2 linked regions of the Homo sapiens genome follow. The protein of the gene in region 1 interacts with the protein of each later gene in a pairwise test. Each region holds a gene or a part of one and is shown on either strand. Other genes may lie near its edges. The genes, in order: ZNF234 and CLIC6.

Evidence for each region.
Region 2: the proteins of ZNF234 (region 1) and CLIC6 interact in a two-hybrid assay, tested with the Homo sapiens proteins (one large-scale study listed by BioGRID and IntAct).

Annotation. Positions count from the first base shown.
Region 1 is NC_000019.10:44,154,987-44,158,812, forward strand, and holds part of ZNF234 (zinc finger protein 234), read left to right. Parts: intron 1-1,265; coding exon 1,266-3,133; 3' UTR 3,134-3,826.
Region 2 is NC_000021.9:34,671,944-34,675,769, forward strand, and holds part of CLIC6 (chloride intracellular channel protein 6), read left to right. Parts: intron 1-3,826. UniProt on the Homo sapiens protein: In the soluble state, catalyzes glutaredoxin-like thiol disulfide exchange reactions with reduced glutathione as electron donor. Can insert into membranes and form voltage-dependent chloride-selective channels.

The sequences.
Region 1 (3,826 bases):
CTCTGTAAAAATTTCCTTAGAGGTACGTCTTTCTGCTAAACTTTTGTGGAAGAGTTCATTTAAAAAATAATTTCCAAATATTTATATCTCTTTATACAAGATTAAACATTTTGGAATATTATTAAGGATAAACCTTTCAGAAGGGTTTAAACATTTTAAATCTAAGTTATATTAGAAGTGGTCAAGAGTTTATAATAGTTGTCAGCTCATTTAATGTCTGTCAACACAGAAAAATAAGATTAAGTGTATATGTTATGCAGAATATTCAAGAATATGGTTGATCCTTGAACAACTTGGGGGTTAGGGACACCAACTCCCCTCACAGTAAAAAATCCAAGTATAACTTTTGACTCCCCTCTAAAACTTTACTCATGGCCTACTTTGACTGAAAGACCTACTGATAACATAGTCAATTAACACATATTTTGTATGTTATAATGTATTGTATACTATATTCTTACAATAAAGGAAGAATTCTTTATTCTTACAATAAAGAGAAGAGAAAATGTTATTAAGAAAATTATAAGGAGGAAGAGGAGGGGTTGGTCTTGCTGTCTCAGGGATGGCAGAGATGGAAGAAAATCCATGTATAAGTGAACACATGCAGGTCAAACCTGTGTTGTTCAACGGTCAACTGTATTTTGAACATGTAAATATAAACATTTCAGGTTATTTAATAATTTGAATATGTAACATGAACCTAAACTGCAAAATATTTGATTATTTTCTTACTTTCCCTTGAAGTTCTTGTTGATTTATATTATCTACATTTTTTTTTAACTTTTAATATTTTTAATAGAGGTACATTCTTGCTTTGTTGCCCAGACTGGTCTCAAACCCCTGGCCTCAAACTATCCTTCTGCCCCAGCCTCCCAGAATGCTGGGATATACAGGCATGACCATGCCTGGCCTATGCTTTTTATATTTAGATAATTTACTATTTATTATTCTACACTGACTTTAAAATTCGATGGAAATGGCAGTACAATTTGTATCATGTTAATTTTTAAAATTAACTCTGACTTCTAACTTGTGTCTCACATAGGAGACTTGGTATGGTCTAATGCCTGGTAGATAGCAGCCAATTGGACCACCTCTTGATTTATCTAGGCATGGAAATCAGAGATCATGATACACAGTGGAAAAGACCATTACACAAACTGGACCTTCTCTGGATTTGTTAAAATCGCATGCTCTCGCCTAAGTATGACATCTTGAAAACTTTTAACAGAGCCTCCACATCTCTGAATTCTCTGTCCTTACAGCAGACAAGATCCAAAGTGAGGTGGAGACTGTTCCAGAAGCAGGACGACATGAAGAGCTTTACTGGGGGCAAATCTGGAAACAGATTGCAAGTGATTTAATCAAGTATGAAGACTCTATGATAAGTATTTCTCGGTTCCCCAGACAAGGTGATTTGTCCTGCCAGGTTAGGGCAGGACTATATACAACTCACACAGGACAGAAATTTTACCAATGTGATGAGTACAAAAAATCCTTCACTGATGTCTTCAACTTTGATCTTCATCAACAGTTACACTCAGGAGAGAAGTCTCATACATGTGATGAGTGTGGAAAAAGCTTCTGTTACATCTCAGCCCTTCATATTCATCAAAGAGTCCACATGGGAGAGAAATGCTATAAGTGTGACGTGTGTGGTAAGGAATTTAGTCAGAGCTCACATCTTCAAACTCATCAGAGAGTCCACACTGTAGAGAAACCATTCAAATGTGTGGAATGTGGGAAAGGCTTCAGTCGTAGATCAACACTTACTGTACATTGCAAATTACACTCAGGAGAGAAACCTTACAATTGTGAGGAATGTGGAAGGGCCTTCATACATGCTTCCCATCTTCAGGAACATCAGAGAATTCATACTGGGGAGAAACCATTCAAATGTGATACATGTGGTAAGAACTTCCGTCGTAGATCAGCACTTAATAATCATTGCATGGTCCACACAGGAGAGAAACCATACAAATGTGAGGACTGTGGTAAGTGTTTCACTTGTAGCTCAAACCTTCGTATCCATCAAAGGGTCCACACAGGAGAGAAACCTTACAAGTGTGAAGAATGTGGTAAGTGCTTTATTCAGCCTTCACAATTTCAGGCCCATCGGAGAATCCACACTGGAGAGAAACCATACGTATGTAAAGTGTGTGGTAAGGGTTTCATTTACAGTTCAAGTTTTCAGGCCCATCAGGGAGTCCACACTGGAGAGAAGCCATACAAATGCAATGAGTGTGGGAAGAGCTTCAGAATGAAAATTCATTATCAAGTGCATCTGGTAGTCCACACAGGGGAAAAACCCTATAAATGTGAAGTATGTGGTAAAGCCTTCCGTCAGAGTTCATATCTTAAAATCCATCTGAAAGCACATAGTGTACAGAAACCTTTTAAGTGTGAAGAGTGTGGGCAGGGCTTCAATCAGAGCTCACGACTTCAGATTCACCAGCTGATCCATACCGGTGAGAAACCATACAAATGTGAAGAGTGCGGAAAGGGATTTAGTCGTAGAGCAGATCTTAAAATTCATTGTAGGATCCACACAGGGGAGAAACCATATAATTGTGAGGAGTGTGGGAAGGTCTTCAGTCAGGCCTCGCATCTTCTAACCCATCAGAGAGTTCACAGTGGGGAAAAACCATTTAAATGTGAAGAGTGTGGGAAGAGCTTCAGTCGGAGTGCACACCTTCAAGCCCATCAAAAAGTCCACACTGGAGAAAAGCCATACAAATGTGGGGAGTGTGGAAAGGGCTTCAAGTGGAGCTTGAACCTTGACATGCATCAGAGGGTGCACACAGGAGAAAAACCCTATACATGTGGGGAGTGTGGGAAGCACTTCAGTCAGGCCTCAAGTCTCCAACTTCATCAGAGTGTCCACACAGGAGAGAAACCATACAAATGTGATGTATGTGGTAAAGTCTTCAGTCGGTCTTCACAATTACAGTATCATAGGCGAGTTCACACTGGGGAAAAACCTTACAAATGTGAGATATGTGGTAAGAGGTTCAGCTGGCGATCAAATCTTGTAAGTCATCACAAAATTCATGCTGCTGGTACATTTTATGAAAATGATGAGAATAGTAAGAACATCAGAGAGTTGTCAGAGGGAGGAAGTTCTACAAGGTGATTAAAAAAAAAAAAACAGAACTCATGTACAACCTGAATGCTTGTAATTAGATTTCATAGGAGGGAAAAATTTTCTTTATCAACCTCTTTGAATTTATTTGATTTGTAACGCTCCACATTTCCACCTAGACTTTTTTTTGTTTTTTATTTTTTGTTTTGAAACAGAATCTCGCTCTGTTGCCCATGCTGGATGCAGTGGTGCTATCTCAGCTCACTGTAACCTCCACTTCCCGGGTTCAAGTGATTCTCCTGCCTCAGTGGATTACAGGTGCACACCACCACGCCTGGCTAATTTTTGTATTTTTAGTAGAGATGGAGTTTCACCATACTGGCCAGGCTGGTCTCAAACTCCTGACCTCATGTGATCCACCCACCTCGGCCTCCCAAAGTGCTGGGATTACAGGCATGAGCCACCGCCCCTGGCCTCCATCTAGACTTTGAAATGATTGCCTTCTAATTACAGTAGCATTCTCTTATTTAAAATATTTGTTTTATTTAAGTCAGTGTTTAAGCAATAGCTCAGCATATCCCAGTGGTCCAGTGACCACACAGCTGAGAACCCTTGTTAAGTGGTACAGTAAAGCATTCTGTCAAAACTTTGACATTTATGACATGTTACCTAGGAAATAGGACTTAGAAAATGAGTTTGACCTGGGCTTTAAAAAAGTATACTGATGAAGGTGCCAGAATTGAT
Region 2 (3,826 bases), on another chromosome or scaffold:
AGCCCCTGAGAGGCTGCTGGGAAGAGCTGGAGCGCAGTGCTGCTGTGTGACCCCAAATCTGCTCCTCTCCATCACCTTGGTTTTAGAAATTTCCCGTTGCTGTGGTTGTAAGGATACATGATTCTGGCACACGGCCTCTTAGCACAGTTTTGATGGACAGTAGCAGCTTCTGGCTAGTCTCCCTGTTTCAGTTCTCTGTCCTCTCCAATCTAGTCTCTTTGTAATAGCCAGTGAGCTGCGGACAAGATCTGATCATTTTATTTCTTTGTGTAAAATTCTTCAGTTGTTTATTGCAGAATTTCAGGTAAATCCCCACTCCTTAGGCAGCCCACAAGGCCCTTTGTGATGTTATTTCTGCCTTCTTTCTTTCTGGCCTTGGCATTGCTGGGTGTCCCCACCCTTTGTTACCTGTGGTCTCGCTATGCCACCTGGATTAAACTACTTACTGTTCCTTGAGGGAGCCACGTTCTTTCCTGCCTTGAAACTTTCTACATTATGTACCCTCTGTCTGAATGGAGTTTCTCCTCCTCGCCCCTGTCTGCCCTCCTGCCTAGTTATCTGCCACAAGTCCAAGAGTTAGCATGGATGTCATATCTTCCAGTCCCAGTCGGATGACCCTGTTAAGGCATTGCCCTCAGCCTGCTATGTCTCTTTCCTCAGCTGTGTGAAATTCATCATTCTATCTCCAGCGCAGAACACAGGTGTGGGATGTGGTGAAGGCTTGAATGGGCGGCTAGCTGCTGGATAGTGTGGTGATCAAGAACACGGACTTTAGAGCCAGTGGGTCTGGGATCAAATCTTGGCTTTGCTAATTTCTTGCCGTGTGACCTTGGGCAAGTTACTTAATCTTTTGGTATCATTGTGGTCTCATTGATAAAATGGGGACGGTAATAGTACCTAGCCCTTGAGGTTACCGTGAGAAATTGAGAATTAGATTACACAAAGCACTTAGAAAAGTGCCTGGCTGGAAATAAGCTTAGTACACATGTGAGTTCCTATTGTTACATCTGTGCTGCTCGCATAACTTGCACTGATTTTGCACAGAAACAGTTATCCCTGCCATTACTTATTTTATTTATTTTTAGGGAAAATCCCTCTAGGTACGTAATTACCTCCAATCTCTAGGGATAAGAATGTTGTGAAAAGTAAAAACAACTTGCTTCCTCAAATACTGCTTGGGAGGAGTTTGTGTGGGCAGAAGCATGTGGCCTAGCACCAGCAGCGGCCCAGCACGAGCAGCTTACCCACAATGCTTTATTCTGATGATTGATCTGGTGCTCAGTTGCTAACTTTTTTTTTTCTTAAGGAAACAGATAGATCTCCAAATGATGAGATTGGTTAACTTTTTTATTTTTTTTTTAATTGAGACAGGTTCTTGCTCTGTCACCCAGACAGGAGTGCAGTGGTGCTATCTCAGCTCACTGCAACCTCCACAGACTGGGTTCAAGTGATTCTTGTGTCTCAGCCTCCTGAGTCGCTGAGACTACAGGCATGCGCCACCACGTCTGGCTAATTGTTTTGTGTTTTTGGTAGAATGGGGTTTCGCCATGTTGGCCAGCCTGGTCTCAAACTCCTGACCTCAGGTGATCCACCCACCGTGGCCTCCCAAAGTGCTGGGATTACAGGCTTGAGCCACCACACCTGGCTGAGATTTGTTAACTTCTGAGGGGTCACTTATCATGAGCCTCACAGTATTGATATTGTGTCTCAGTTTCTTCTTATCCTACCAATTATGCTCTTTGAAAACAAAATGAAACAAAAACAAAAAAGACAGACATCAAAGCAAAAAACAAAACTAAACAAACAAACAAAAAAACACCCTTTAGACTCATATTTTCTGAGTTTGAAATACTTGATGTAAAATCTGGAAATTAGTTCAGAATAGGATTTCTTTGCCAGAATTAGCCTTTTCTAGGCTCCTTTTTTGGGCTCAGTTTTGTCTGGGTTCTATTCTACAGTGGACACCTGAGCTGGGTTTTGTGAACATGCCTAGATGCGTCTTCATGGTGGGTTTTGTATGGCATAGCTGGAGTGTGGAATTCACAGCTGGGTTTAAAGGAAAGTACTGCAATATTCTCTCAAACATTCTCCTAGCCTTCATATGACAGCTGAGCAAACACATTTTAAAATCAGTTAGCCCATATTTTATTTGGGAACTCCTAGCTTTCACATTTCTTCCAATTTTTTTTTTGAGACAGGGTCTCACTATGTTGCCCAGGCTGATCTCCAGCTCCTAGGCTCAAGCAGTCTCCCTGTGTCAGCCTGCTGAGTAGCTGGGACCACAGGCACACACCATTACACCCAGCTAGTTTTTTCAAAAAAATTTTTGTAGAGACAGAGGTCTCACTTTTTTGCTCCAGAGGGTCTCGAACTCCTGGGCTCAAGTGACCCTCCCACTCTGGCGTTTCAAAGTGCTGGGATTATAGGCACAAGCCACCATGCCTGGCCTCTCTTCCTATTTTGTTAAAAATAAATATATTGGTTACAAATATACCAGAAAGTCATGGCTAACTATGTAGTAACATGTAATAATAATTGTCCCACATTTGCTTCTAATTAGCCATCTAATATATTCTCCATCTTTATGAGAATTGTCATGTTATTAATTTGTCAGTTTGTTTTATTTTACAAGCATGCAAGGATGCATTCTTGTACAGAAGCCAGGAACATATAGAACCAGCCAAGAAAGGTCTTAAATTATTTTGTGGTAAATTAATTGCTGATTATGCTAATTTTTAGTTTTGTTTTCTCAAAGAAGTGTTAATTATTTGTCATCAAATTATAGGGTAACTCTGCAATATATTTAGTAAGAAAGGTTCTTTTTCTTTCCTCATAATAACAAAGGGTAACAACATAATCACATAATCACACAACAACATAATAACAACAGGCAAAACACTAGCAGCAGAGAGTTAAGTAAGAACTTCATTTAAGTAAGGAGTTCAGCGGTAGTGGAGATTTAGTCGCCAAGGAAGTCTTGCTTACGGCTTTGGTTCCCCTAATCTGGCGTGTAAGCTTTGAGTCAGGGTCTTTGGGTGGGACAGTCTGAGCTACGGCTTTCCTGGCAAATTTGACATGACTTAAAAAACTTCAGTGTTGACCAGTGATTAGTCCTGGGCCACCCAGGATTTAGACACCACCTGTTTACTTGTAAACATGCAGTTATTGCTGAGCTAAAAAAACTTGCATTTGTATTCACATTTGGGTTCTCCAAAGAGGTGAAACTGACCCGATGAAACACAGTAAAACTCAAGAAGGACATGGCCTTTGAATAAGCACTGTCACCCAGAAATGAGCCCCCGCCCCTCCAAAAAAAAAAAAAAAAAAGAGCCTTCCAAGCATTGCCATACCACAGGGCTGGGCAAGAATGAGCCAGGACCAGCGTCTGATGGACTCCTGGTAGAACGGTAAGCTGTGGCTCTCTGTGGACATGTCACTGGGAGAGAGCATGTTGGGACTTGTTCTATGGGGCTTGGTCTCCAGGGAGCTTGAAAGGGAGATGTTATTTTCACAACTATGTGTTCTGAAGGAAAGTGAGCAAAGATGCATTTCTGAGACTTTAATTCTCCCCTAAAAACAAATTTTTTGTAATTTTTTTTTATTGTCTTAGAAAACCTGCCTACAAATTACACATATGAAATCAGTACCGGGTTACTTGGGGGTGGAAACAGGTGGAGCATGATGTTTTGCGTAACCTCTTGCATACAAACAGGTGCAGGTGTGCACATGCATGCTGGGGGTGGGGATACCCCTGCCACACTCAGTGAGAGCCCTATCGTCATTGCCTCTCGGTTCTCACCACCTGCCACTGCAGTGGGCTCATGGC